4 linked regions of the Homo sapiens genome follow. The protein of the gene in region 4 interacts with the protein of the main gene of each other region in a biochemical or structural test. Each region holds a gene or a part of one and is shown on either strand. Other genes may lie near its edges. The genes, in order: RWDD2B, ATG7, RNF187 and TRIM7.

Evidence for each region.
Region 1: the proteins of TRIM7 (region 4) and RWDD2B interact in a test that uses a peptide from one of them, tested with the Homo sapiens proteins (one study listed by BioGRID).
Region 2: of the proteins of TRIM7 (region 4) and ATG7, one has a biochemical effect on the other in vitro, tested with the Homo sapiens proteins (one study listed by BioGRID).
Region 3: the proteins of TRIM7 (region 4) and RNF187 interact in a test that uses a peptide from one of them, tested with the Homo sapiens proteins (2 studies listed by BioGRID, with this or other methods).

Annotation. Positions count from the first base shown.
Region 1 is NC_000021.9:29,016,347-29,024,108, forward strand, and holds the start of RWDD2B (RWD domain-containing protein 2B), read right to left. Parts: upstream 3,004-7,762; 5' UTR 2,932-3,003; coding exon 2,865-2,931; exon of another isoform or gene 2,567-2,864; intron 1,902-2,566; exon of another isoform or gene 1,240-1,901; intron 1-1,239.
Region 2 is NC_000003.12:11,267,881-11,275,414, reverse strand, and holds the start of ATG7 (ubiquitin-like modifier-activating enzyme ATG7), read right to left. Parts: upstream 3,019-7,534; 5' UTR 2,985-3,018; exon of another isoform or gene 2,706-2,984; intron 1,202-2,705; exon of another isoform or gene 1-1,201. UniProt on the Homo sapiens protein: E1-like activating enzyme involved in the 2 ubiquitin-like systems required for cytoplasm to vacuole transport (Cvt) and autophagy.
Region 3 is NC_000001.11:228,483,528-228,490,384, reverse strand, and holds the start of RNF187 (E3 ubiquitin-protein ligase RNF187), read right to left. Parts: upstream 3,004-6,857; 5' UTR 2,897-3,003; coding exon 2,507-2,896; intron 1,426-2,506; coding exon 1,333-1,425; intron 1-1,332.
Region 4 is NC_000005.10:181,202,195-181,210,147, reverse strand, and holds the start of TRIM7 (E3 ubiquitin-protein ligase TRIM7), read left to right. Parts: upstream 1-4,951; 5' UTR 4,952-5,037; coding exon 5,038-5,559; intron 5,560-5,807; exon of another isoform or gene 5,808-6,403; intron 6,404-6,507; coding exon 6,508-6,603; coding exon of another isoform or gene 6,604-6,651; exon of another isoform or gene 6,652-7,560; intron 7,561-7,953. UniProt on the Homo sapiens protein: E3 ubiquitin-protein ligase that have both tumor-promoting and tumor-suppressing activities and functions in several biological processes including innate immunity, regulation of ferroptosis as well as cell proliferation and migration.

The sequences.
Region 1 (7,762 bases), on a different chromosome or scaffold from region 4:
CTCCACCTCCCAGGTTCAAGCGATTCTCCTGCCTCAGCCTCCCAAGTAGCTAGGATTACAGGCATGCGCCACCACACCCAGCTAATTTTTTGTATTTAGTAGAGATGGAGTTACACCATGTCAGTTGGGCTAGTCTCAAACTCCCGACCTCAGGTGATTCACCCGCCTTGGCCTCCCAGAGTGCTGGGATTACAGGCATGAGCCACTGCTCCCGGCCTTTTTTTTTTTAAACAAAATCCTCATACATACTTAAAATCCCTGGACTTATTGGAATTCCATATACATATTTGCTGGTCTGTTTTGGAGTTGAGAAACATAAAAAACAACTACTTGGGTGGTTATTAGAGGAAATGGTTTACTTTGTTTTTTTGTTGGCGTGGCTCTGTTACCAGTGTTTTTGGATTCTATTACCAGATTGCCAAGGTGCGACTCCTGGCTCTGCCACTTACCAACTGCAGGACCTTAGGCAAGTGGCTTAATTTATCTGTGCTTTAGTCTCCCCAACTCCATAACTGGGATGAGAGGGTTGCTGTGATGATTAGATGAGAATTTGTGGAAAGTGCCTGGCAACAGTAAATTTTATATGCGTGCTTGCTACTATTATTATTAATTAAAAAAACCTTTTTTTTTGAGACAGGGTCTAGCTCTGTCACCCAGGCCAGAGTGCAGAGTCGGCTCACTACAACCTCTGCTTTCTGGGTTTTTTAGTAGAGACGGGGTTTCACCACGTTGGCCAGGCTGGTCTCGAACTCCTGCCGTCATGATCCACCCGCCCTGGGCTCCCAAAGTGCTGGGATTACAGGCATGAGCCACCGTGTCCGGCTGCTTATTACTATTATTATTATTGGTCATCATTTCAACAAATGTTTCTCAAGCACTTACGTTCAAGCACTGGCACTAAGATAACAATGAATGAAAGTAATAAAACAACTCTACTGGTGGGAGGATACCATGACATCAAAAACAAATTTATACGCCCAGCCCAGGTGCGGTGGTGGCTCACGCCTGTAATCCCAGCACTTTGGGAGGATGAGGTGGGCGGATCACCTAAGGTCAGGAGTTTGAGACCAGCCTGGCCAACATGATGAAACCCCATCTCTACTAAAAATACAAAAATTAGCCAGGTGTGGTCGCCCACGCCTGTAGTCCCAGCTACTAGGGAGGCTGAGGCAGGAGAATCGCTTGAACTGGGGAGGCGGAGGTTGCAGTGAGCTAAGATCATACCTCTGCACTCCAGCCAGAGCAACAGAGCAAGACTGTCTCAAAAAAAAACAAAAAAGAATTTTTGTACCCAGTGAATAACTGCTATGAAGAAACCTGAAAAAGAAAACAAGGATAAGGGAAACAATGAGGCAGCAGGGGTGAGACTGCACACAGCATTGTCAGGAAAGGCCTTTCTCCTAAGGTGACTGTAGGGAAGAGACTTTAAGGAACTGAAAAAGGAGGCCATGTGTTTTTCTTGGCCAAGAGTGTTCAAGGGAAAGCGAACAGCATATTCAAAGGCCTTGAGGAAGGAGGGTGCTAGAACAGCTGGCCAGAGCACAGTGAGCTGAGGACACGGGGAATAGAAGAGTTTAGTAAGGAAATGTGGGGCAGTTTATGTTGGGACTAGTAAAGCATGGCCAGAATTTTGAATTTTATCCCGACTGACATGTAAGAGCTACAAGAGAGGTTTGACTTATGAAGATCCCCACACTTGCTGCTATGGAGAAAAGTGAAAGGAAAAGTGGGGTGACCAGATATAGACACCGCAATAACTAGGGAGAGATGATGGTGGCTTTGATAGGATTATAGTGGTCAAGTTGGTGAGCTTCAGGTTCTGGATACATGCAGAGAACAGAGGCAACAGGATTTACAGATGAATTACATGAGACACGGAAGAATGACTCCGGGGCTTTAAGGTACTGAAAGTATGGATCTGCCATTTATTTAGACGTTGATGGTCATGGGGAGCTGAAGCTTGGTTTTAGACACAAGTAATGAAGTGCCTACTAAGACACCTGTTAAATAGAGAGGTCTAGCAGGCAGTTAGATGTATAGTTTTGAAGTCTACGAGAGACTCAGCTAGATATATAATCTTGGGAGTCAACACTTATTTGGAACTATATATTTGTTTAAAGTCTCCCAGGGAGTGAGTAAAGTTGGGAGAGGGTGCTATTGAATTGGAGGTATCGAAGATGAAATGGGATTAGCAAAGAAGAACGGGACGGAGGGACTCTTGAACGGACAACTACGGGAGTGATGTCACAGGTCATTTATCTGCCAAATTATTTTCGCTTAAGAGATTTCAGTCCTTCCAAAAAACCCTCAAGATAATTTTATGATTCAAGATTTCAGCGAATGCTGTAAGATAATAGACTGTGGCCGGGCGCGATTGCTCACGCCTGTAATCCCAGCACTTTGGGAGGCAGAGGAAGGGGGACTGCTTGAGCCCAGGAGTTCAAGATCAGCCTGGGTAACATAGTAAGAGCTCGCCTTTATTATTTTTTTAAAAAATAAAATATATTTAAGAGAACGCAGACTGAAACTTGAGATTTCTGAGTGGAATAATATCTTTTCCTTGCAGATTTTTTTTTGAAGAACAGAGCAGGGTACCCCGCGACCCAAGCCAAGACGCTCTCAGGAAGAAAGCCCAGCACGCAGCCGCCCTCGCACCCTGATTGCCCCCGGGGCGAGGTCCCCGGCTGGAGCAGGGCTGCAGAAGCCGGGAAGCAACGCCGAGGACCGAGCCGACCGATGGGCGCATGCAGTGAGGGGAACCGGGGCCGCCATGCCGGGCACGTTCCCAAAGGGTTGCACTGGGCGCTGCAGCGTGGGAAACCCCCGTGGCGGTCACCACTGGCGCTAGCTGAGGCGAGACTCACCTTGAGCCGTGGCCCCCTCACTGCTGTAACCCGGGTTCCATGGCTGCATGGACAGCTCAATTTTCATCAGAAGGGAGCCTCAAAATTCTAGCATACTGCGACCCAAAACTTACAAACCGCCTCAGCTGGCGACCTACCGGAAAAAAAAAAAAAAAGCATGCGGCGCATGCGCGTCCAAGGCCGCGGACCGGAAGCTGGGGCTCGCCTGTTGGGAGCCGCGTCCGCCGGTGTTGGTGTCTGCACTTGGAAGGACGTAGGGAATGCGTTGTCCCTGCTAGGTACTTTTCAGTCGCAGAGTTCTCTTCTTCTTCTTTCTTTCTTCCTTTTTTTTTTTTTTGAGACGGAGTCTCGCTGTGTCTCTCAAGCTGGAGTGCAGTGGCGCGATCTCGGCTCACTGCAGCCTCCGCCTCCTGGGTTCAAGCGATTCTCCTGCCTCAGCCTCCCGAGTAGCTGGGATTACAGGCGCCCACCACCATGCCCAGATAATTTTTGTATTTTTCAGTAGAAATGGGGTTTCACCATGTTGGCCAGGCTGGTCTCGAACTCCTGACCTCAGGTGATCCACCGGCCTCGGCCTCCCACAGTGCTGGGATTACAGGCCTGAGCCACCGTGCCCGGCCGGAGTTTTTCTACTTAATACCTCTCCATGCCAACCCCGTTGTCATTTCCCAGCGGCCGCCTCTATAACGGGCACTTTTCAGGGACAAAGAATTGGTCCGTTAATGTTCCTCAAATTCGAACGCGCCTAGGAATAGTTCGGGGATCCTGTTGAAGTGCAGATCAGGATTCCGTAGGTAGGGGTGGGGTTCCAAATTCTACATTTCTAGTATCTTCCCACACGATGGTGATCCTCCTTGTCCCTGAATCATGGAGGAGGGCAATTAGGGAGATGTGAGCCTGGATGCATGGTGGCCTTGGCTATCTTAGGTGTTCTTGCCCATTAACCAAGCTGGGAGGAACCGTGTGAATGCATATCTATCCCTGTTAATAAAAGGGTAGTTTGAAGGAGATGCTGACAGGAGAATAATTAGAAATGTTTTTCTTCCCAATCCAACTATATGCAATACACTTTATAATATTCATTTTAGAAATGTCATAGATAAGATTTGTAAACATTGACATTTAGCAATACTAAATATCACTGCTAGGTCTCCCCTCCACTTTTTTTTTTTAAACAAAAATACGACAGTATGTATTGTAGGTCTTCATAAACTACGTCTTCTGCATAGTGTTTCATGAGCGTTTTTCAATGTCATAATTTATTTTTTCCTCCAACATTTATTATGAAAAAATTCAAGTGTAAAGCGAAGTCGAGAGAATTTTACAGTGGAGCAGACCTCAAGAGAAGGGGAAGGATGGATTTCCCCTCTATTTAGCAGTGTCTGAAGACATTTTGGGTTGTCACAACTGGAAGGATGGTATTGGCATGGGGTAGGTAGAGCACAGGGATGTTCCTCAACTTCCTACAATGAACAGGACATCCCCCGACAACAACAAATTTGCTGGTCCAAAATGTTGATAGTGTTGAGGTTGAAAAACACTGACCTGGAGAGTACAGAATTTTACTCTACCAGCTTTGTCACATACCTCATCAATCTATCTGTTTTCATACATTTAAAAGTAAACTGCAGACAGTACGCTTCTAAGTACCTCTAATGCACATCATTGGAGTTCAAATTAAGGATTTTTTAAGGTAAAAATGAAATGCATACCTTAAATACACATCAGTTTTTAAATGCACACGCCTATGGAACTCAAGCCATATTAACATATAGAACGTTACCATCACCCTAGAAAGTTCTTTCATGCCCTTTCTTAGTTCCCAACCAGTTCTCCCCAAAGGTAACCACTGTTCTGATTTTTTCCCCCACCATACTTATTTTTCTTGTTATAGAACGTCATATGGTTGGAGTCATGCAATAGATATTTTTGTGTAAGGGTTCTTTCACTCAGGGTAATATTTTCATCTGATATCATGTGTATCACTTTCTTTTGATTGCTCAGTAGTATTCCATCATATGAATATACCAGTTCCATTCTTGTTTTGATAGAAACCTGGGCTGTCTTCAGTTTTTTGGCTATTATAAATAAAGCTGCTGTGAACGTTCTTATATAGCATTTTATTGCTCATGACTTTCTTTTCAATAAATATTTATCGAGCACTTACTATATTCCAGGCATTTCCAGGTACTAATTATAGCCATGAACAAGACAAAGATGTCGCATCTCTCAAAGAGCTTATATTTGCACATTTCTGTGTATGTATGAAGAGGGCTAAACATAAAGGTAAAAATAAAAGAAAATTATGGGCCGGGCACAGTGGCTCATGCCTGTAATCCCAGCACTTTGGGAGGCCAAGGCGGGCAGATTACCTGAGGTTGGGAATTCAAAACCAGCCTGACCAACATGAAGAAACCCCGTCTCTACTAAAAATACAAAAATTAGCTGGACATGGTGGTGCATGCCTGTAATCCTAGCTACTGGGGAGGCTGAGGCAGGAGAATTGCTTGAACCTGGGAGGCGGAGGTTGTGGTGAGCCGAGATCACGCCATTGCACTCCAGTCTGGGCAACAAGAGCAAAACTGCGTCTCAAAAAAAAGAAAAAAAAAAAAAATTATGGCTGGGTATGATAGCTCATGCCTATAATCCCAGCACTTTGGGAGACCAAGGAGGATCACTTGAGCCCAGGGTTTGAGACCAGCTTGGGCAACAGAGACCCCTAACTCTACAAAAAACACAAAAATTAGCCAGGTGTGGGGGCGTGTGCCTGTAGGCCTGTAGTCCCAGCTACTCAGGAGGCTGAGGTAGGAGAATTGCCTGAGCCTGGGAAGTTGAGGCTGCAGTGAGCTGTAACTGCACCACTGCACTCCAGCCTGGGCAACAGAGTGAGACTCTGTCTCAAAAAAAAAAAAAAAAGAAAGAAAATTACCAGATAGTGGATAAACTGCTGGGCAGAGAAGTAAAGTAAGGTGATGTGAGTGATCAGATGACTGTGTTACTTAGATTGCCCTGTAACTGGAAGGAAGTGACTTTTAAGGCATGTATAGAAGCTGGGTGTGGTGACTCACACCTGGAATCCTAGTGCTTTGGGAGGCTGAGGCTGGAGTATCGCTTGAGGTCAGGAGTTTGAGACCAGCCTGGGCAGCAGGCTTTTGTAGAGACACGGTGACTTCAAAAAAAAAAAAAAAAAGTTAGCTGATGAGGTGGCACACACTTGCAGTACCAGCTACGCGAGGCTGAGGCATGAGGATCACTTGAGCACAGGAATTCAAGGTTACAGTGAACTATGACTGCACTTCAGCCTGGGCTACAAAGCCAGACCCTGTCTCTAAAATAAATAAATTAAAAATAAGGTGTGAACAGAATGACAATAAGATACCAACCCCGGAAGATCAGGGGGAAGAGGCTTTCTGACAGGAAGCACGTGGTACAATGACCCTAAGGCTCTGTTTTAAAATGCGTGGGGGCAAAAAGCCTGCATTTCTGGAGCTTGGAGAAGAAAGCTTTAAAAAATTATCTCATCCCACTCCTGTTCTTTTTTGCATGAGAGCTGGAGCCTATGCCCTACCACACATCCGTGGATATGCCCAGGATTTGACTTGGGCCTTCGAACTTTGCACAGTAGCTGCTACTAACTTTTTGAGATAATACATTCGTGGGGGCTCAGTCCTGCCTCATCTAAATCACCAGAGACCAAACAAGGACCAGCCCAATATCTCTTGGACTGTAATGTCATAATGTTGTCAGAATACAGAGAAAGATGAAACTAAGCCGGGTCCGGTGGCTTATGCCTGTAATCCAGCATTTTGGGAGGCCGAGGCAGGTGGATCACTTGAGGCCAGGAGTTCAAGACCAGCCTGGCCAATATGCTGAAACCCTGCCTCTACCAAAAAAATACAAAAGTTAGCTGTGTGGTGGGGTGGCACGTGCCTATAATCCCAGCCACTGGGGAGGGTGAGGTGGGAGAATCGGGAGGTGGAGGTTGCAGTGAGCTGAGGTCGTGCCACTGCACTCCAGCCTGGGTAACAGAGTGCAACCCGGTCTCAATAAATAAATAAATAAGTAAATAAAACAAAAATTATCTCAGCAGTAAAAAGCAAGAGAGCTAGTTTTCCCCCAAATTTAACCAAATGTTACTCTGGTGGTTAGTATGCCACCATCTTAAACTCCTTTTATCTGATTAGTAAGGATGGACATTTATTTTATGACCAATTGTTCTTTTATGGTGAATTACCTGTTTACATATCTATTTTTCTATAGCTATCTGCAACTCCCCCGACCCCCACGGTAGCGATTACTATCTTCTCTACTAAACTAAGACTCCAGGGCAGAGAGGCCTATGTTTAATTCATTTGAGGAAAGGCTTGGCACAAAGTGTGCACTTACATATTTTCTTTTTTTCTTTTTGAGAGGGAGTTTTGCTCTTGTTGCCCAGGCTGGAGTGCAATGGAGTGATCTTGGCTCATTGCAACCTCTGCCTCCAGACTTCAAGCGATTCTCCCCCTTAGCCTCCCGAATAGCTGGGATTACAGGCGCCCGCCACCACGACCGACTAATTTTTTGTATTTTTAGTAGAGACGGGATTTCACCACGTTGGCCAGGCTGGTCTCGAACTCCTGACCTCACGTGATCCACCCGCCTCGGCCTCCCAGTGTTGGGATTACAGGGGTGAGCCACCGCGCCAGGGCTCGCACTTACAAATTTTCAAAGAATGGACAGTAAATATTTGAAAATCCCCTCCTCCCCCGCAATTTATCTGACACCGTCTTTCGGTTTTGCTTTAAAAATTCACTCTCGCGGCCGGGCGCGGTGGCTCACGCCTGTAATCCCAGCACGTTGGGAGGCCGAGGCGGGCGCATCACAAGGTCAGGAGTTGGAGACCAGCCTGGCCAATTGGT
Region 2 (7,534 bases), on a different chromosome or scaffold from region 4:
ATCGTGCCACTGCACTCCAGCCTGGGCGACAGAGTGAGACTCCATCTCAAAAAAAAAGAAAAAAAAAAAAAGAGGAGAGGAAGACATTAGCGAACGTCATTTCCATGGGTAGAAGTGGACGACAGAGGCAAACTGAATTCCAAATAAAATCAGAGGTCAGGGTTAATCTATTAGAGACACTAGTCAAAGAATTTTGTTACTGCTCAATTCCACACAGCAAATTCATTTCTGCCCTCCCGTCATCAGGATCCTGATTCTTGTCCCCTTCTTCTGTTTCATCCTATCAGTTACCAAGTCCAGCAAATTCCACCTCCTTAATCTCTCAACTCCTCCCACTCCTCTCCATCTCCACTGTCACTGCCTTCATCCAGATCTTCATCCTGTCACCTGGATCACTGCAACTATACCCAACTGGTCCCCTGCTTGTCTTTTTCTGTCCAGTGTAATCACCACATTGCTGCCTGGGTAATTTAAAACAGATGAGAGGATGTCGCATCTGTTTTAAAATCTTCAGTGTCCTGCTCTCCACCCCCGCCCCCACATTTTAGAGTCCAAACTTCTGGGCCTGGCAATATTAATGACTACTGTTTATTGAGTATTTATCATCTACCAGTGTCAAGTGAGTAACATATCACCTCGTACAGTTTTTATTTCCCCTTCTTAGAGATGAGGAAACTGAAGCTTAGAAAGAAGTGACTTGCCCAGGGTCACAAAACTAGTTCAGTGGCAATGGGAATATTGGTACGCAGCTATCTTGGATCCCAAAGTCTATGTGCGGGTAACATGCTATTGTCCACAGGGCCCTTCACGATGTGGCTAGTGCTTACCTTTCCAGTCACCTCTCATCCTACACCTCCACACTGGCACTCCAGTGAACCACAAGCAGGCCATGCATTCTCACCTCTAGCCCTTTGCTCATCTCACTTCGAACCACTCTTCACCTGTCAGATCTCGTTCGTCCTTCAGGTCTTGGCTAAAGCAGCACCTCCTCACTGAAACCTTCTCTGATGAGTCAGCCTGACTTATGCGTACCCTAAGTCCTCCTCTACCAAACCTCCGCAATAGCTTCATGCCATACCGTTGCTATCTCCTTGGCTTAAAAAAAAAGTAAACTCTTTGAGGACAGGGATGTGTATCTTACTCATTTTTGTATTCCCAGCTTGCAGCGCAGTGCCAGACACACAGCTGAAGCTCAATAAATGTTTATTCTCTATAATGAGATGCTGGCTGGGAACGAAAAACGGAACCTGTGGTTGAGTAATGGAAAGTCCAGTACTCAGCTCTTAAAGGATTTCAAAATCATGTCACATGAGGGCAGGAAGGAGTTGGCCAAGATAAATGGAAGAGGAAGGGGAGATGTTCGAAGCAGCAGAAGCAAAGGGCTATAGGTGACACACACCTGCAAGCAGCTTAACAAGACTGGAGCAGCGTTGGGGGATGGGAAAGCAGTTTAGCAACATGAGCCATTCCAAGACTGGACTTTTCTTTATTCAAGTGTTAGGTCACTTCCTCAGGGAAGCCATCCCTGACTAGCTAGCTTTTATGCTTCCCCCCAATTACTGTCCATCCCATGACCCTGTACGTTTCAGAATCGGAAACACCTACCAACCCTTACTGACAATGCCGCCACCGCCACCACCACCACTATTATTAGAAGGTGCCATGAAACAGGGTTCTTTTTCTTCTTATTTTACTGATAGATCACCAGTGCCCACAATAATGCCAGGCACATAACAGGCAAATATTTGTTTTATTCATTCATCCAACAAATATTTATTGAGCATATATAATATGCTAGGCATTGCTCTATATGCTGGGGATATAACAAAACATGACAAAATTTGCTGTCACTGTTAAGTTTACTATGAGCAAATACATTAAATATGCTTAGCCTAGAGAAGAAAAGGTGAGAAGAGGAAGACAAACTAGCAGCTTTCAATGATGTATAGGGCAATTAAATGCAGGGGTGATTCCAAGAGCCTGAAGGAGGAACAGTGAGCTAAGATTACCGAGTAGCTGCTTTCAGCTCAACCTAAGAGTCAGAACTGGGGGAGGACCAAACAGGAGCAACCAGAAGTAGAAAGCTTTCTGTCACTGAAGAAATCTGGCCAGTGGGCAGAGGTGTCAGAGAAAAAAATCTAAGTAGTCAATGAAAAAGGGAGTCTGGGATCCAGAGGTCCCAAACTGACAGCCACAGATATGACTGGTTACAGTTGAACAGGGTTTTGTAAAAACTGAGTTGCCAATGTTTTTAAACGCCAGAATTACTTGCCAATTTTTAAAAAATGGCATCAGTCGCCAGTGTTTAAAAATCAGGAAACTGCACGCACGTGCACACACACACGGTTTGGCTTGTACTTCTCCAACATCATGTACGTTAGTACTGTACTTATAAAATTAGAAGTTTGACTCTATTTCTGACAAATGTTCTAACACCTATATTTACCTTACCGGATTGATTCTTATTGTGCATTAGTTTCTAACCCTGTAACCAAGGAATCGAGAATCTTCTTTCTCAGAAAGTAAACTTATTTAACCTCCTCACTTAAACAAATGGCGGATTATCATTCCCATTTTGCAGATGGAAAAGCAGCTTAGATGGGGAAGGAACGTGCCAGAGACAGCAAATCCAGACACAGCCAGGCTGGGAATCCAAATGTCCCATCTCCCGTGTTCCAACACTGAAGATTCTGAGCACTGCCTACCAAGAGGACAGGAGGGGCTGACTTAGGAAATCAGCACGAGCTTCCAAGTCAGAAGACCCCGGACTGAACCAGTCTGAGGGGACGCGGCTACAGACGAAGGGCGCCAGCCGGAATCAGTGAGTCCCTGGAGGAGGAAGGACCACCCAGAAACTGGCAGAGGAGGATCCTGAGACTTGCTGTGACCCTCGCCCTCCCTGGCGAGCTCGCCCCTTGACTCCAGGCCTCCAAAACCGGCCCAGCAAGACCCCACTACACCCTCGCCCGCCGCGGCTCACTTACCGCCGCTCAACTTCCGGCAACCACAGCTCTCTCTGAGGCGCGCGCCCCGATGACGCAACGCGGTCCTGCCCGCGCTTGCCACTGGGAAGCGGCGCGCGTGCGCAAAGGAGCAGAGGCATGCCGGGGAAATGCGCCCCTAGCACCGAGCTAAGTGGGAGGAACTTGAGTCGTGAGGAGGGCGGGGCATCAGGGGGCGGTGACGCCCCCGGGGGAAGCGATGGAGAGCGTCTCCCTTACCAGATGTCGGAATGTCTACATTCCCTTCAGGCTTTTAAGAAAGTGCCCACGTTCTCTCTTTTGATTTCAGAGGATGACAGGAATGATCACCATGGTCATTCTCCAGGAGAGGCGGCATCAAACGCAGCACAGGGGCCATCAGGGTGGCAGGTGTGGAGAGCCAGGAGATGAGAATTTTAGTAGGAAAAGGCCAGTGAACGTCGACAGTGACCAACCTGCCTTTTCTAAACCAGCCATCATTCTCACAGCTCCTCACTGTCAGTGAGATAAAGTTATTCCCTCTCAATACTTGGTTAGATACTCTGCGCGTGCAAAGCACTGGACAGGTGTTGAAGATACAGCAGTGATTATGACAAGTTTCTCTGTCTGGCCTGTAAGGCCTTTCACAAATTAACTCTGATATACCACTCTAGACTCATAACAACAAGAGCGATGACTGCTATTAATTAACTAGCCACCATGTTTTCAGGGTTTTACATCTCTAATCCTCACAAGAGTCCTGAAACATATCCCCAAGTTATATATGAAAGAACAGAATCTAAGAAAAGTTAGGTGGCTTGCTGAAAGTTAAAGGGCTTTTGGGCCAGGAACGTAATCTGAAGTTTGTTTGATTCTGGCAAATAAGAAAACAAATCCAGACTAATAAGGATACTTATTAGAAAGGATTACTGCAGGCCCGGCGCGGTGGCTCACGCCTGTAATCACAGCACTTTGGGAGGCCGAGGCGGGCGGATCACGAGGTCAGGAGATCGAGACCATCCCGGCTAAAACGGTGAAACCCCGTCTCTACTAAAAATACAAAAAAATTAGCCGGGCGTGGTGGCGGGCGCCTGTAGTCCCAGCTACTTGGGAGGCTGAGGCAGGAGAATGGCGTGAACCCGGGAGGCGGAGCTTGCAGTGAGCCGAGATCCCACCACTGCACTCCAGCCTGGGCGACAGAGCGAGACTCCGTCTCAAAAAAAAAAAAAAAGAAAGGATTACTGCAAGAAGTGAGAGAGGTGGGAGAGAAGGAACCGTGCAATAGCAGAGGGAGACTATTGCAATAGTGAGATCACTCTGACCAAAACATCCGCAGATGTTTCAATGGTTAGGGAAAAAGAGGGTTCCCCCACCCCCCACCCTCCCCAAAGGCAGGTAAACAAGGCTGGAAACAACCGAATATGGGAAGTGGGATGAAGGGGTGGCTTGATCAGATAGTAGATTAGAGAATGTTTTATCTTGAGGCCAACCTATTCTCAGTAGGGGTTGTGTGTGTCAGTCTCTGAGCCCAAGCTAAGCCATCATATCCCCAGTGACCTGCACGTATACATCCAGATGGCTTGCAGCAACTGAAGATCCGCAGAAGTGAAAATAGCCTTAACTGATGACATTCCACCATTGTGATTTGTTTCTGCCCCACCCTAACTGATCAATGTACTTTGTAATCTCCCCCACCCTTAAGAAGGTTCTTTTATAGTCTCCCCCACCCTTAAGAAGTTTCTTTGTAATTCTCACCACCCTTGAGAATGTACTTTGTGAGATCCACCCCCTACCCCCAAAACATTGCTTTTAACTCCACCGCCTATCCCAAAACCTATAAGAACCAATGATAATCCCACCACCCTTTGCTGACTCTCTTTTTGGACTCAGCCCACCTGCACCCAGGTGAAATAAACAGCCTTGTTGCTCACACAAAGCCTGTTTGGTAGTCTCTTCACACGGACACATGAGACAGTATGCTAGTTCAAGCTGAGAGTAGGTTAAAGTAAGGAGCCTGGGGAAAGGAAAGAAGCTTAACCCAAGTTTGGTTAATAAGCATTTTTTCCAACTGGTCAATGGAGACAAGCAGCTCTGTAATCATTTATGAGGCAAAGAATGGGAATTCAGAAGGACTGTGTTTGACCTTGCCACAGTAAACAAGGGAGGCAACCAGGAGTCATTTAAGTGACATGAGAATGGGTATTTCTTTGTAGTGAACATTTTCTGAAGCACAAAAAGGTTAAGAAAGATTTCTCTTTTTTGCTTTATCTTTTTTTTTTTTTTTTTTTGAGACGGGGTCTCCCTCTGTTACCCAGGATAGAGTACAGTGGAGTGATCATAGCTCACTGCAGACTCAACCTCCTGAGCTCCAGGGATCCTCCCACCTCAGCCTCCTGAGTAGCTGGGACTACAGGTGCATGCCATCATGCCGGGCTAATTTTCTCATTTTTTGTAGAGACTGGGTCTTGCTATGTTGCCAGGGCTGGTCTTGAACTACTGGACTCAAGTGATCCTCCCACCTTCACCTCACAAAGTGCTGGGAATACAAGTGTGAGCCACCTTGCCCAGCAAGGATTTCTTTTTCCTTTTTTTTTTTTTTTTTGAGACGGAGTCTCGCTCTGTCACCCAGGCTGGAGTGCAGTGGCACAATCTTGGCTCACTGCAAGCTCCGCCTCCCAGGTCCATGACATTCTCCTGCCTCAGCCTCCCAAGTAGCTGGGACTATAGGCGCCCACCACCTCGCCCGGCTAATTTTTTGTATTTTTAGTAGAGACAGGGTTTCACCATGTTAGCCAGGATGGACTCGATCTCCTGACCTCATGATCCACCCGCCTCAGCCTCCCAAAGTGCTGAGATTACAGGTGTGAGCCACCACGCCCAGCCTTTTTTTTTTATTTATTTATTTTTTTGAGATGGAGTTTCACTCTTGTTGCCCAAGCTGGAGTGCAATGGCGCAATCTTGGCTCACTGCAACCTCCACCGCCCGGGTTCAAGCGATTCTTCTGCCTCAGCCTCCCAAGTAGCTGGGATTACAGGTGCATGCCACCACACCCGGCTAATTTTTTGTATTTTTAGTAGAAACGGAGTTTTACCATGTTAGCCCGCCTGATCTCAAACTCCTGACCTCAGGTGATCTGCTCACCTCGGCTTCCCAAAGCGCTGCGATTACAGGCGTGAGCCACTGCACCTGGCCAAGAAGGATTTCTTAACCTTTACTGTCAGAGGCATTTGAACCAGAATGACTCCATCTTGAATAGGGGCTGAGTAAAGTAAGGCTGAGACCTATTGGGCTGCATTCCCAGGAGGTTGGGCATTCTTACTCACAGGATAAAACTGGAGATCAGGGTATGACAGAGGTCACAAAGACCTTGCTGATAAAGGTTGTGCTAAAGAAACGTGCCAAAACCCACCAAAACCAAAATGGTGACGAGAGTGACCTCTGGTCATCCTCATTGCTTATTATACGCTAATTATAATGCATTAGCATGCTAAAAGACACTCCCACCATTGCCATGACCTTTTACAGATGCCAAGGCAATGTCAGAAAGTTGCCTTATGCAGTCTGAAAAGGGGAGGAACCCTCAGTCCCAGGAATTGCCCACCCCTTTCCCAGAAAACTCATGAATAATCCACCCCTTGTTTAGCATATAATCAAGAAGTAACTATTAGCATAATCAATTGAGCAGCCCATGCCACCACACACTGCCTATGGAGTAGCCATTCTTTTACTCCCTTTTTTTCTTTTTTCTTTTTTTTTTTTTTTGAGATGGAGTCTCACTCTGTTGCCCAGGCTGGAATGCAATGGCGCATCTCTGCTCACTGCAACCTCTGCCTCCTGGTTTCAAGCAATTCTCCTGCCTCAGCCTTCCTAGAATATGGTGAGCAATTCTCCTGCCTCAGCCTCCCTAGAAGCTGGGATTACAAGAACACACCACCATGCCTGGCTAATTTTTGTATTTTTTTTTTAATACAAATGGGGTTTCTTTCTTTTTTTTTTTTTTTTCCAAGACAGAGTCTTGCTCTGTCACTGGGCTGGAGTGCAGTGGCGTGATCTCGGCTCACTGCAACCTCCGCCTCTTGGGTTCAAGCGATTCCCCTGCCTCAGCCTCCCGAGTAGCTGGGACTACAGGCACAAGCCACCAAGCCCAGTTACTTTTTTATATTTTAGTAGAGACAGGGTTTCACTATGTTGGCCAGGCTGATCTTGAACTCCTGACATCTGGTGGCCCGCCCGCCTCGGCCTCCCAAAGTGCTGGGGTTCCAGGCGTGAGCCACCACACCCAGCCTCCTTTGCTTTCTTAATAAACCTTCTTTCTCTTTATGGACTGTCCCAGAATTCTTTCTTGTGTGAGGTCCAAGAAGTCTCTCTTGGGGTCTGGATCAGGACCCCTTTTCTTTTCTTTTTTTTTTCTTTTGTGTGTGTGTGTGTGTGTGTGTGTGTGTGTGTGAGAGAGAGAGAGAGAGAGAGAGAGAGAGACAGAGTCTCACTCTGTCACCCAGGCTGGAGTGCAGTAGCGCGATCTCGGCTTACTGCAACCTCCATCTCCTGGGTTCAAGTGATTCTCGTGCCTGAG
Region 3 (6,857 bases), on a different chromosome or scaffold from region 4:
CACTCACAAGGCAAGGAGAAGTTCAGAGCAGCCCCAAGGGCAGTGTGGAGTGCCAGGGGTCTGAGTGGCATCAGGGACCCCATGTGTAACCCGTCACTGTCTGAGGGAGGCCTGCACCTCAGGCCTGTGGATAGCAGGCAAGGGCTTGGCAGCACCAGGAGCACAGAGCCCACCTCAGCCTCAAGCTGGGGTAAAAACGTGGGCCTCAGCCTCGAGATGCAGCCAGTTACCCAAGAGCTGCTGCACCTGTGAAAAGCACTCTGTCTTTCAGGTTAAAAGAAGGAGATAGGAATTTATGAAACGCAGAGAAAATGGCACACAGGTTTTTACTACACGAGGAAAAAGTCACCAAATAGAGTTTAAACGACTAAAGAGCTTTACTGGTGAGTAACCTAAAAGAATCTATGGGATGTCCCCTTGGGATATAATACTGTGGAAGGCACCCAAGGAAAGTAACGCTGCTCTGGTCTGAATGTCTGTGTCCTCCCCAAATCCCCATGCTGAAATCCTCATCCCTCAGGTGATGGCGTTAGGAGGCAGGACCCTTGGGAGGTGATGAGGTTGTGAGGGTGGAACTCTCAAGAACGGAATCAGTGTCCTTACACAAAGGCCCCAGAGACACCCTCACTTCTTCCACCATGTGAGGACACAGTGAGAAGACACCATCTATGAACCAGGAAACGCCCTCACCAGACAGGGAATCTGCCAGTTCCTTCATCTTGGACTTCTAGCCTCTAAAAAATAATGAGCAACTCTCAGATCAGAACAAGAGGACCACAGAAAATTACAGATGTGTTCTAAAAAAGAAAAAAAAAATAGCACTTTGGGAGGCCAAGGCGGGAGAACCGCTTAAGGTCAGGAGTTTGAGACCAGCCTGGGCAACACAGCAAGACCCCCACCTCTAGAAAAGCATTTTAAAATTAACCAGGTGTGGTAGCACGTGCCTATAGTCCCAGAGGCTGAGGTGGGAGGATCGCCTGAGGCCAGTTCGAGCTGCAGTGAGCTACAATCATGCCATTGCACTTCAGCCTGGGTAATGAAGTGAGACTCTGTCTCTTGGGAAAAAAAAAAGAAGTCTGATGCTGCCATCACCTACAGGTAAAATGTGAGGAGAAAAAGAGGCTTCCACTGGCTTTGGCTAGATTCTATTTGAGAAATACAAACACATCCTAAAAAAAATACCCTGAAGCTCACTTAAGTCCAGAGGCCCCTCCTCCAACCAACCAGCTGAGCAGTTCAGAGGCCTGGCCCACTTGGCCTGGTGGTCCCTTTGTCTAGAGCCCTGAGCCCACAGTCCCCTCATTCCAGGCTGCCCCAGGTCCCCCCACTTGCCTTCCACACTGCAGCTGCTGACTCTGCCTGGCCATGCAGGTCCCGGGCGTCATTCAAGTCCTTTCTCATGATTTCCACAGACCCCTTGTTCTCCTGTAAAGAAAAGAAGGTCACCAGGGGTGGGCAGAAGCTCTGGGTCCCCCAACCCAGCCCAGTACTGAGGGACATCACCCCAGCTGACTGCACACAGTCTGACCATCCCAGAGATAACCTCGAAGCCCGGTTGTCTAGGGCAGGAACGCACAGGCAGTCAAAAGGTTTCTTGGGCTTCACACCTATTCAGAAGGATCTGGGTGCTGGGGCTAAGGGGACTGTCTAGGTGGGTTTAGGAGTTCTGTGTCTGTAAGTGGCCCTGTTCAGTGTGAGTTCGGCCTGTACCAAAGGTCTGCACAGCCTGCCCTACACCCTGCCCTGCCTGAGCCGGATGGGGGTCGCTCTGCCCGGTGGCAGGACCCCCAATGCAGGAGGAGCACCCAGGGACACAGTCTGGCTGGCTTCCCCTCCCCTGTATTGAAGAGCAGGACCCCAGGCTGGCTGTTGTCTCCTATTCTGTGTCCCACAACCAACCCGCCATGGGCAAGGCTCCAGACTCCCGGACCCGCTGCTGCCAGACTCTCAGAGCGGGTTTCTGAAAGATGGGAGAGGGGACAGGGGGTGCAGGCGAGGGCTGGGTGGCCCGGGGAGCAGACGAGAAGGTGGGCCAGGCCTGTGGACACAGTGGAATACAGAGGGGCAAGAGGCGTGATGTCTCCCCCAAGGGAAGAGTGAGTGGAGGAGTCAATCTGTAGGAACTAGAGGGGGTCTATGAGGGCGAGACAGGGCACAGCTAGTGATGGGACCACAAAGATGGGCGCTGGTGGGGGAAGGACTTCGTAGAAGGTAGGGGGTGGGGAGATAAGGCACCGCCCAGCAGGGGACACCAAGACGGGGAAGGGGACCAGACTCCGAAGAGACGCAGGAAATATGGGGAGGCAAGCCGCAGGAGGGAGGGGCCCAGCACACGCTGGAGAGGGGACCCGTGGCGGTGAGGGGAGGGGGACAATCCGGGGACGGGGACAATCCGGGGACAGGAACAGTGGAGACGGGAAGGGCCCAGGGCTCAGGGGGACCGGGGCGGGGGCGGAGAGGCGCAGGGCACCGTCCGGGGTGGGGCACGGGACCCCGCGGCGCGCACCTTGCCGCGCAGCGCCTTCCTCCAGCGCGGTTCCCACTCGGGCGGCTCGGGGCCCGCAGCCATACGGCAGGCGGCGCAGAGCGGGCCGGCGTCGGCGCGGCACAGCAGCTGCAGCGCGGCCTCGCTGGCCGGGCCGTCGCGCGCGGGCGCCGCGGCCGCCTCCTCGAGCGCCAGAAGGCGGCGGCTGAGCGGGGGCCTGCCGGGCTCCACGGCGCGCTGCCAGCAGTCGTCGGCGCACTCGGGGCACGGGAAGGGCCCGTCCTCCTCGGCCCAGAAGCGCACCACGCACGCCCGACAGAAGCGGTGGCCGCAGTCGGCGCGCACCGGTTCCCGGGGCGCGCGCTGGCACAGGGCGCAGGCGGCCTCGGCGGGGCCCGCAGGGAGCGCCAGGGCTGCGGGCGGCGGGGCCGGCAAGGGCGCAGGAGCGGCTGGGGAGGGCCGGAGACCTAGACGGCCGGCGACCGGACGGAGACCAGCAACAGGACGAAGACGCCAACGCCGGGGACGCGCACGGGGCGGGGTCGGGGACGCGCACGGGGCGGGGTCCGGACCGCGGAGCGCTCTGCCGATAAGATCCTGGCAGCGGTGTGCTGCAGCCGGAGGTCCTGGCCGCGCTGCGCTCCACAGACAAGATCCTGGCAGCAGTGTACTGCATCCTTAGGTCCTGGCCGCGGTGGGCTTCTCCGCCTGGATCCTAGCGGCGGTGCGCTCCTCCGCCTTGATTTTGGCAACTATGCTCTCCACCTGCAAGGTCCTGGCAGCGGCGCACGTCACCGCGCAAGTCCTGGCAGCTGCGCGCTTCACTCTACTGCCTGCGGACCGGCCCAAGTCGTATCCTGAAATCTTACTGGGCTGTCCCTTCCTACTTCAGTAACTCCTGCGAAAGAGGGAAACAAAGTTTTATTTTTACTTGAAGGTTCCATTTTTAAAAGGTTGTTTTTGTAAGCTGCTAGGATCTGAGCTGCGCGTACCCCCGCGGTAGCTCGCCCGCGTGGGCTGGGGACGGGGCGGGAAATGGCCTGCGTGGGCCTCCTCCGCTGCTCTCATCCTGCACGGACCCGCCCTGCATGGGCACGCCCTGCGTGCACGGGCCTGCCCGCGTGGACGTGCCCTGCGTGCACCCTTCCTTCAGGGACCCGCCCTTGAACGGCCCTCCGGACGTGGACACTCGTATACGCCCACCCTGCGTGGGATCTCCCTGCGTGGACCCATCCCGCTGAGCCTCTTCTCGCGCAGCCTCCCTCTGGCCCCCTGGGAAGCTACCCTGGTTGTCCGCTGTCTCCTGGCTGGGGGGAGCTCTCATTGATTCTGTGATGATGCATGACAGAAGAGCATTTGTTAGCTTTGCTTTGCTTTTCTTTCTTTTTTGAGACAGCCTCGCTCTGTTGCCAGGCAGGCTTGAGTGCAGTGGCGCGATCTCGGCTCACTGCAACCTCCGCGTCCCGGGTTCAAGCGATTCTCCTGCCTCAGCCCCCCGAGTAGCCGGTATTGCAGGCGCCTGCCACGACGCCCGGCTAATTTTTGTATTTTTAGTACAGACGGGGTTTCACCATGTTGGCCAGGCTGGCCTCGAACTCCTGACCTCGTAATCCACCCGCCTCTGCCTCCCAAAGTGCTGGGATTACAGGCGTGAGCCACTACACCCGGCCGTTAGCTTTTCTTTAAAAAATAAATTTAAAGGAAAGAAATAAGCCTTTGGGAAGAGCAATCTTGTGTTTTTGTTTTTTAATTATTTTGAAAACAAGCAAGCATGGTTAAAATAAGATTGTGCAAGTTTTGCATTTTAAAAAATTAATCTGGGCCGGGCGCCGTGGCTCACGTCTCTAATCCCAGCACTTTGCGAGGCCGAGGCGAGCGGATCACAAGGTCAAGATATGAGACCATCCTGGCTCATGGTGAAACCCCGTCTCTACTAAAAATACACAAATTAGCCGGGCGTGGTGGCGCATGCCTGTAATCCCAGCTACTCAGGAGGCTGAGGCAGGAGAATCACTTGAACCAGGGAGTCGGAGGTTGCGGTGAGCCAAGATCGTGCCACTGCACTCTAGCCTGGCGACAGAGCGAGACTCTGTCTTAAAAAACAAAAACAAAAAAAAATTTTTATAAATCTGTATTCCAAGCAAGCGCAGGATCTAATGAGGTATTTTTGTCTTTGTGAAGATTTTTTAAATCGACTTGGAAATGCACTAGATGCCCGTGGGAAACATGAATAGTAAACCGAGGTTATTTCTGTGTAGTAAAGATTAGAGGCTTCCAGCCGAGCCTTGCTGATATTGTTGAGTCAACTAGGAACTTGCTGGAGAGAAAAGTAAAAAATATAAAAAATGAGCAAACTTCATAATGAACTAATCTTGTGAATGAGAAAATATCAAAAATTATAATTAAAGGCAAATAGCCAAATTAGGAACATTGTAACCACAAATATACAAAGAGTTTATAAAATTAGGTAAGGAAAAGCATGATGGAAAATACACCTTGTCATGGGATTTTTCAAATCACAAAAAAAAAAGCACACAAATGATTGAACACACATGAGAAAAAAATGTACACTCTGCCCAGTTAAGAAAGAGGAAAATAAAACGAGACTCTCTTTCTTTCCACTATTAAGTAAGCAGACCAAACAAAAAAAAGGAAACTTGGCCGGGAGCCGTGGCTCAGGCCTGTAAACACAGCACTTTGGGAGGCCGAGGCGGGTGAATCATCTGAGGTCAGGAGTTCAAGACCAGCCTGGCCAACATAGTGAAACCCTATCTCTACTAAAAATACAAAAATTAGGCTGGATGTGGTGGCACACGCCTGTAATCCCAGCACTTTGGGAGGCTGAGGCAGGTGGATCACAAGATCAAGAGATCGAGACCATCCTGGCCAACATGGTGAAACCCCGTCTCTACTAAAAATACAAAAATTAGTTGGGCATGGTGGTGCACGCCTGTGGTCCCAGCTACTTGAGAGGCTGAGGCAGGAGAATAGCTGGAACCGGGAGACGAAGGTTGCAGTGAGCCGAGATCATGCCACTACACTCCAACCTGGCGACAGAGCAAGACTCCCTCAGTTTCAAAAAAAAAAAAAAAATACAAAAATTAGCCAGGCATGGTGGCACGTGCCTGTAATCCCAGCTATTTGGGTGGCTGAGGCAGGAGAATCGCTTGAACCTGGGCGGTGGAGGTTGCAGTGAGCCGAGATCACACCACTGCACTCCAGCCTGGGCAACAGAGTGAAACTCCATTTCAAAAAAACAAAAAACAGAAAACAAACAAACAAAAAAAACACTTGATTCTGTGAATACTGCTTCTTGTAATCCACGTAGCAGTATCGATTAAGGATTTTCTGATTGGAATTCCTTTTCTTAGAAAACAAACTATAAAAATAACAGGAAATGAAAATAATAAAAATTGGGTTGTAAAAAATTGGGCTGTTTTGTTTTGTTTAGAAATGTGGCTGGGAGAGGTGGCTCATGCCTGTTAATCCCAGCACTTTGGGAGGCTGAGGTGAGTGGATAGCTTGAGCCCAGTAGTTCAACACCAGCCTGGGGAACATGGCAAGAACCTGTCTGTACAGAAAATTTTTAAAATTTAGCTGGGCGTGGTGGCACGCACCTGTGGACCCAACTACTTGGGAGGCTGAGGTGGGAGGATCACCCGAGCACAGGAGATTGAGCCTGTAGTGAGCCGTGATCATGCCACTGCACTCCAGCCTGGGAAATGAGAGAATTTTTTAAGACCTTGTCTTAAAAAAAAGAAAGAGAGAGAGAGAGAGAGAGAGAGGTGGGGGCGGGGGGTGGGGGAGAGAAGGAAGGAGTGGAGGGAGAGAGGAAGGAAGGAAGAAAGGGAAAAGAAAAAGAAGAAAGGAAGGAAAGAAAGAAAAGGAAGGAAGGAAGGAGAAAAAGAAGGAAGGAAAGAAAGAGAGAAAGGAAGGGAGGGAGGGAGGAAGGGAGAGGAAGAAAGAGAAGAAAGAAAGAGAAATGTATGTCATATCACTATTCATTTTGGAGAAAAAAAAAAAAACCTTGAAGGTCCAATACTAGGGGCATGGCTTAGCAAATGGTAGCAGCCATGAACTTGCACATGTGTGCATTAGAGACTTTTGGAAGTATACACTGGCAAAGATTGTTGCCTGAAAGCCTCTCTCCCTTACCACCAGCAGAATCCACATTGTGTGGTGCCAGCATCCCCACTTCCCAAGACAGGGTGGCTGGTGTAGGTGCCAAGGGGAACCCTTGGTCCTCTCAAATTTTGATGAAAAATTGCAAAAGGCTGGTCGCGGTGGCTCACGCCTGTAATCCCAGCACTTTGGGAGGCCGAGGCTGGCAGATCACAAGGCCAGGAGATGGAGACCATCCTGGCCAACACGG
Region 4 (7,953 bases):
AAAAATACAATTAGCCAGGCGTGGTGGCAGGCACCTATAGTCCCAGCTACTCGGGAGGCTGAGGCAGAGAATCGCTTCAACCCGGGAGGTGGAGGTTGCAGTGAGTCAAGATCTCGCCACTGCACTCCAGTCTGGGCGACAGATCAAGAGACTCTGTTCCCCCTCCTTACCCAGCCCCCCCCCCAAAAAAAACTACTTGCATCAAAATTTCTGGAAGAATATGTACAAAAATATAAAATTGAAATTTTAAGGGGGAGTTAAACACTTTTCACTGAATTCTGTTTTATATTTTAATGTTCTTTAATTTTTATTTTAAAGATGAGGGTCTGGCTAGGTTGCTCCCGAACCCTTGGCCTCAAGCAATCCTCCTAAAAGTGCTGGGATTTACAGGCATGAGCCACCGCGCTCAGCCGAAAGATTTTTGTTTTTGGGTTTTTTTGTTGTTGTTGAGACGGAGTCTCGCTCTGTCTCCCAGGCTGGAGTGCAGTGGCGCCATCTCTGCTCACTGCAAGCTCCGCCTCCCGGGTTCACGCCATTCTCCTGCCTCAGCCTCCCGAGTAGCTGGGACTACAGGCGCCCGCCACCACGCCCGGCTATATTTTTGTGTGTTTTTAGTAGAGACGGGGTTTCACTGTGTTAGCCAGGATGGTCTCGATTTCCTGACCTCGTGATCCACCCGCCTCAGCCTCCCAAAGTGCTGGGATTACAGGCGTGAGCCACCGCGCCCGGCTTTTTTTTTTTTTTGAGACGGAATCTCGCTCTGTCCGCCAGGCTGGAGTGCAGTGGCGCCATCTCAGCTCACTACAACCTCTGCCTCCTGGGTTCAAGTGATTCTCCTGCCTCAGACTCCCGAGTAGCTGCGATTATAGGCGTCCACCACAAGGCCCGTTTGTATTTTTTAATTTTTTTTTTTTAGACGGAATCTTGCTCTGTCGCCCAGGCTGGAGTGCAGTGACGCAATCGCGTCTCACTGCAACCTCCGCCTCCCGAGTAGCCGGGATTACAGGCGCGTGCCACCACGCCCGGCTAATGTTTGTATTTTTAGTAGAGACAGGGTTTCACCATATTGGTCAGGCTAATCTCGAACTCCTGACCTCAGGCGATCCACCCGCCTCGGCCTCCCAAAGTGCTGAGATTACAGGCGTGAGCCACTGGGCCCGGCCGAAAGATGTTTTTTTTAAATTTAATTTAATTTTTGAGACGGAGTCTCTCTCTGTCGCCCAGGCTGGAGTGCAGTGGTGCGATCTTGGCTCACTGCAAGTTCCGCCTCCCGGGTTCACGCCATTCTCCTGCCTCAGCCTCCTGAGTAGCTGGGACTATAGGCGCCCGCCACCCCCGGCTAATTTTTTGTATTTTTTTTTCAGTAGAAACGGGGTTTCACCGTGTTAGCCAGGATGGTCTCGATCTCATGACCTCGTGATCCGCCCGCCTCGGCCTCCCAAAGTGCTGGGATTACAGGCGTGAGCCACCGCGCCAGGTCGAAAGATGTTTTTTAAAGCTCATTTGTGATGTAGCCTCTGTGGAAAATGGTATGACACTTCCGCAAAAACAGAAATGCCGTATGACCTAGTAATTTCACTTTGTGATGTATACTCTAAAAAAATAGAAAGCCTAAACTCAAACAGATATCTGTACACTCATGTTCATAGCTGCATTATCCACGGTAGCCAAAAGGAGGAAGGAACCAAGTGTCCATTGGCAGATGAATGGATAATGTGGTATATATGTGCAATGGAATGCTAATCAGCTTTAAAAGGAAGGAAATTTTGACACATGCTACAATAAGGATGAATCTTGAAGACATTAAGTGAAATAAGACAATTTAAAAAGGAAATATAAGGATGAATCTTGAAGACATTAAGTGAAATAAGACAATTTAAAAAGGAAATATTGCACGATTCATCTTATATGAGGTATCTAGAGGAGTCAAATTCAAAGACACAGAAAGTAGAATGGTGGTTGCCAGCGTCTGTGGGCAGAGGGGAATGGAGAGTTAATGCTGAATGGGTTCAGAGTTTCATCTGGGAAACAGGAAAAAGGACTGGAGACTGATGCACAACCATTTAAATGTATTTAATGCTACAGAACTGTACAGTTAAAAAGTGTTAAATTTTGTTGGGCATATTTTACCACAGCTTTAAATCCTAATTGTATCGCAAGATAATGGGTAGATAATGAACAGTGGAGCGCCCGCAAGAGTATTACACACACAGAAATGCAAGACTTCAGAGCAGATTATTTTCCTAAGAGCTGGTCTACTTATAATATATTTTTAGGTATGGCTAGTAGTCGTAGATTTAGGACTAAAACGACCAGTTGCCGCCCAACGTGGGGCTCGAACCCACGACCCTGAGATTAAGAGTCTCATGCTCTACCGACTGAGCTAGCCGGGCGCCCGATGACCGTATCTCAACAATTTTTCATTCTAGATCAGAGTCGGAGTGTATTCAACTGCGGGTTTGAACTTGGATTTATTTGGAGTGTGATAAAACTACTAAAGTGCCTCGGCTCCTGGGAAATTCAAACTCTGCCGTCAGTGCCTGACCGTCCCTCCCACTTACGTCCGTTTCCTGCCCCTTCTACCCTACCAGCGACCAAGCCATTTTCTACCCGCGATGAAGCTCACGGCACGGAGATGGAGAAACGTGCACCCTGACGCCACTGGAGCTCTCACCGTGTGGATTTTTTTTTTTTTTTTTTTTTTGACAGAGAAGACTCTCAAAAAATGGGCCTACCTTTCACCACGAACTGCGGCTCTGTCGCCCAGGCTGGAGTGTCGTGGCGCAATCTCGGTTCACTGCAACCTCTGCCTCCTGGATTCAAGCACTTCTCCTGCCTCAGCCTCCTGAGTAGCTGGGATTACAGGCGTGTGCCACCACTCCCGGCTAATTTTTGTATTTTTAGTAGAGACGGGGCTTCTCCATGTTAGTCAGGCTGGCCTCAAACTCCTGACCTCGTGATCCACCCGCCTCGGCCTCCCAAAGTGCTGGGATTACAGACGTGAGCTACCTCACCCGGTCAAGTACCGTGTGGATTTTAAAACAGGAGGGAAAGACAATGGGGCCCAGAGGAGGGCAGGGGCCGCCGCGGTCTTTTTCTACTCCGCAGACTCCACCCTCTGGGTTTTTTCTTGGAGCTCTTCAAACATGCTGGATTTCAAAATTTGAAAGGAAAATCGAAAACAATAATTGAATGTGCAAAACTACACTGGAGATGCCGGGGATCGAACCCGGGGCCTCATACATGCAAAGCATGCGCTCTACCACTGAGCTACATCCCCACCTACTCTCAGCAGCTCTCCCAGATGGTCCCTATTGGTCGCTTAACTCAGGACACCGGGAGTGGAAGGCAACCGGTACGCGCTGGGTCTCAGCCGCTGCAAAAACCCGGCATCGCAGGGCAAGAGTTGTTCCAGCGTCCTCCGCTGACTCCAAACCAGCGGGTCTTGACCAAGGGATTCCAAGAGAGAGGATTAGGCCCGGCTAAGCACCTGGGAGCAGCTGTGGAAAAAGGAGAGACAATCATCAGGCACGATGCCAAAAATGAACTGTGACCTGAAAAAGAGAAGAAAGGAAAATTGTGCAGGATGCTACGTTTTGTTTTTTAAAAGTGGGGGTTGAGGCAATAAAATACGGAATATTTGATTAACGTAATCCAGAATTGTAAAGTTGATTGCTCGGGAGGAAGAAAGGACTGGGACACAGGCGATGGGCCTACTTTCCACCGTGAACTGCGGCTCCTCTTTTGAATTTCGAACCAAGTTTAATCCAAGAAAACCTTACTGAGCTTGCCAAGAACTGCTCTAAAAACAGGATTCAGCCGTGAACAAACCTAGTACAGTCCATCTGAAAGCTGACATTCCAGAGGAGATAGAGTGCGGGCACAGAGCCGGCCCTGAGAAGGGAGCGCGCTAAGAGACGACTTTACACAGTGTGCGCGTTCGGGGCGGGCTTCGTGGGCAGAGACGTTTGAAACAAGACCTGAATGAGGTGGGAGGGAGCATGCAGGTGGTGGGAGAAAAGAGGTCCACGCAAGGGGAACAGCCAGCGCAGAGGCCACGGGGTTCAGGAACAGCAAGAAGATCGGGGACACTGGGTCCTGGAAGGCCCTGAGAAGGGAAGTCGGGAAGGAGGGAGCATCCGGGGGCAGATGAGGTGAGGCGAGGTCTTCGCCTTTGGGTGAGAATTGCTGAAGTTCCCGGTGACATTGGCAAGGGCGGTTTCTGAGGAGGGTGCGGGCGAAAGCTTGATCCAAGTGGCCTCCAGAGTGAGCGAGGAGAGAGGGTGTGGAAGCGGATAACACAGGCAGCTCTGCTGCGGGGCTGTGGAGACAGCTGGGGGACAAGAGAGCGCTGAGGTTTGTGTGTGTGTGTGTGTGTGTGTGTGTGTGTGCGGTGGGGGGGGAATAATACTGAATACAATGGGAAATTATAAATGTGTTATCTGTTCAAATACTAAGTAAAGAGTAAAGAAGCCGGAGGACAGTCGCAGAAAAGGTAATGGAATGGATACAAGGCCACGCTTGCGCGTGAGGGGACAGGACCAGGTTCCAGTCTCTAAATTTAACTCAGCACAGGGCCGGGGCGAACCTGCGCTGGCGGAACCTGACACCGTGGCCCGAGCGCCAGGCCCTTGCCCCGGCGATGCTGGGTCGGCCTCGGTCGGAAACCGGGAGTGGCGCTGGCAGCATTTGTGCGCCCACCTGTCGCGGCCCGTTTCCCGCGGCTGACTGGGTCAGGCTGGGGCGGCCTGGAGAGTCTGAGGGACGGGGGCGAGGGGGAGAGGCCGCTGGCCAGGGCGGGGGCTGGTGGAGCGCAGATCCGGGGCGCAGGGCGCTGTCCCGCACTTGAATGGCCCGTAGTCAACGTGCGCCTCCCCTCCCGGCTCCCAGCCGGGCGCGCCCCGGGCTCGAGTCTCTGCCTGCCCAGTGGCAGCCCCGCCCTTCCTCTCCCAGTGGGCCCTCGGCGCCCAGCTCCGCGTCCTGTGAGGTCCAGTGGCCGCCCAGGCGCGACCAGATCTGGGTGCGCGGAGAGCGCGCATGGCGGCTGTGGGACCGCGGACCGGCCCCGGAACCGGCGCCGAGGCTCTAGCGCTGGCGGCAGAGCTGCAGGGCGAGGCGACGTGCTCCATCTGCCTAGAGCTCTTTCGTGAGCCGGTGTCCGTCGAGTGCGGCCACAGCTTCTGCCGCGCCTGCATAGGGCGCTGCTGGGAGCGCCCGGGCGCGGGGTCTGTTGGGGCCGCCACCCGCGCGCCCCCCTTCCCACTGCCCTGTCCGCAGTGCCGCGAGCCCGCGCGCCCCAGTCAGCTGCGGCCCAACCGGCAGCTGGCGGCAGTGGCCACGCTCCTGCGGCGCTTCAGCCTGCCCGCGGCTGCCCCGGGAGAGCACGGGTCTCAGGCGGCCGCGGCCCGGGCAGCGGCTGCCCGCTGCGGGCAGCATGGCGAACCCTTCAAGCTCTACTGCCAGGACGACGGACGCGCCATCTGCGTGGTGTGCGACCGCGCCCGCGAGCACCGCGAGCACGCCGTGCTGCCGCTGGACGAGGCGGTGCAGGAGGCCAAGGTGAGCGCAGCCCCCACCCACCCCGTGGGTCCCCGGGACCCCCTGACTTGGTCCCGCGCTCCCGCGCACGGGGTGCAGAGAACAGCCTGTCGATCAGGAGGCCCGGGTGAGCCCCTCCCTTCTTTCTCCATTCCAGGAAGCCCAGCGCTGGTTCCCGGGCTGAGCGCGGTTCTCTGTCACCCCCAACATCACCAATACCCCCACCCCACCCCCACTGCGTTTCCCTCTGGGCCAGATACTGGGCCGCCTGCGCGACGTCCCCCACGGACTTGGCGATGTTCTTCCTGTCTGTTCGGAGCCTCTAGCCTGGTCTGCGTCTCCGCAGCTCTCTGCCCGCGGGAAGTCTCCGGCACAGCCACGCAGCCGCTGCCCCCACTCTTATCTCTTTCCCCGAAGCGGGCTCTGCTCAAAGTCCCCACCTCGTGGAACTGAGTGAGAGGACCTCGCCAAGATGTCCAGGGAGGGGGCTCCCGGGTTAAGCCGCGCACCTAGAGCCGTCTGACTGTGCCAACGCTGTCGATTCTGGGGGCCCTTTCTTTGCTATTTTCTCGCTGAGCCTCAGCGAGGGTGTGTGCAGGGGTGAGGGCGGGGCGGGGAGGCTCGGGCGGCAGTCCCCAGTCTCTCCTTGCTGGCCCATCCTGCTCCAACTCTCCCAGCCACGGGGCTTCCTGGTGGGGGGGCGGAGAGTAGAGGAGACGACTAGGGGTAGGGCTGCCGGAGCTTGTGTTTCAGTCTGGCTGGTCCAGCAGATGCTTTTGGGGAAGCAAGATCCCGAGACCTTCAGAGTCACCTCGCAGTGTAACCTGTAGCCTGTAGAGATGACTTCTACCCGGCCTCCCCCTCAGTGAGCAGGGCCTTCCCTTTCTCCTGGCTGGCTCCAGGAAGGCAGAGGTGGGGGTTTCCAGAAGCCCCTCACCCCCACCTTACATTGTTTCCCTTCATCTACAGGAGCTCTTGGAGTCCAGGCTGAGGGTCTTGAAGAAGGAACTGGAGGACTGTGAGGTGTTCCGGTCCACGGAAAAGAAGGAGAGCAAGGAGCTGCTGGTGAGCCAGGCACCCGCAGGCCCCCCGTGGGACATTACAGAGGCCTGAGAACTCAGCACCAGGGCTCGGTGTGTGTGGTGTTGGAGTGTGTGCTATGGAACCGCAGAATCGATTTCAGAAAGATAATAGAGTCCATATTATATAGGGTGTCCACATAATTGTTGTACAAACCAGAGCTTTTTAAAGTGAAAAGCAGTGCTAAAATAATTATTGCAAAACAACTGGCTTAAACTGGAGCTGTCCCAGCGAATCAGGACGCTCAGTCACTCTGATATTACGTAACATACCAGTTAGGGCCTGCGGAAGCATCTTGTAATGGAACACATTACTATTTCTGCAGAGAAACATGGATATTCAATAAGTGGGAATATTAATACAATAAAGAGCCTCATGGCATGTTTTGTCAACAAAACAGTAGTGAAAAAAATTTCATGTTCACAGTGTTTTTATTTGAAATCGAGGCTAACGGAGAAGGGGCTAGAGGGCGTCAGAGCTGCTCCCTGGCTCTGGCAGAGGGAGGAAGTTTAGGGTCTTGGGTTTACAGTAGCCCCTGCTGCACAGCCCAGGGTCTTGGGTACTGGCACCTGCCTCTACCCCAAGTTGGAATGATATTTTATCTTCCTTAGGGTAGAACAGGAAAGTGAAACGAGGGCTCATTTTGGTTAAGATAAGCAAACATGAGGCCTGGCAGGGTGGCTCACGCCTGTAATCCCAGCACTTTGGGAGGCCGAGGTGGGCGGATCACGAGGTCAGGAGATCAAGACCGTCCTGGCAAACACGGTGAAACCCCTGTCTCTACTAAAAATACAAAATAGCCGGGCGTGGTGGCGGGCGCCTGTAGTCCCAGCTACTCCGGAGGCTGAGGCAGGAGAATGGTGTGAACCCGGGAGGCAGAGCTTGCAGTGAGCCGAGATCGCGCCACTGCACTCCAGCCTGGGAGACAGAGCGAGACTCCACCTTAAAAAAAAAAAAAAAGATAAGCAAACATGAATCACCATCGGTCATTTTCTACCTTGCAAATTCAGTTCCTAGCTCAGTAAATAGGTGTTGAAAGAATAAAAGGATTGGCTGGGTGCGGTGGCTTACGCCCGTAATCCCAGCACTTTGGGAGGTCGAGGTGGGCGGATCACCTGAGGTTGGGAATTCCAGACCAGCCTGACCAACATGGAGCAACCCCATCTCTACTTAAAATACAAAATTAGCCTGCCGTGGTGGCACATGCCTGTAATCCCAGCTACTCGGGAGGCTGAGGCAGGAGAATCACTTGAACCCGGGAGGTAGAGGTTGCGGTCAGCCAAGATCATGCCACTGCACTCCAGCCTGGGCAACGAGAGTGAAACTCCATCTCAA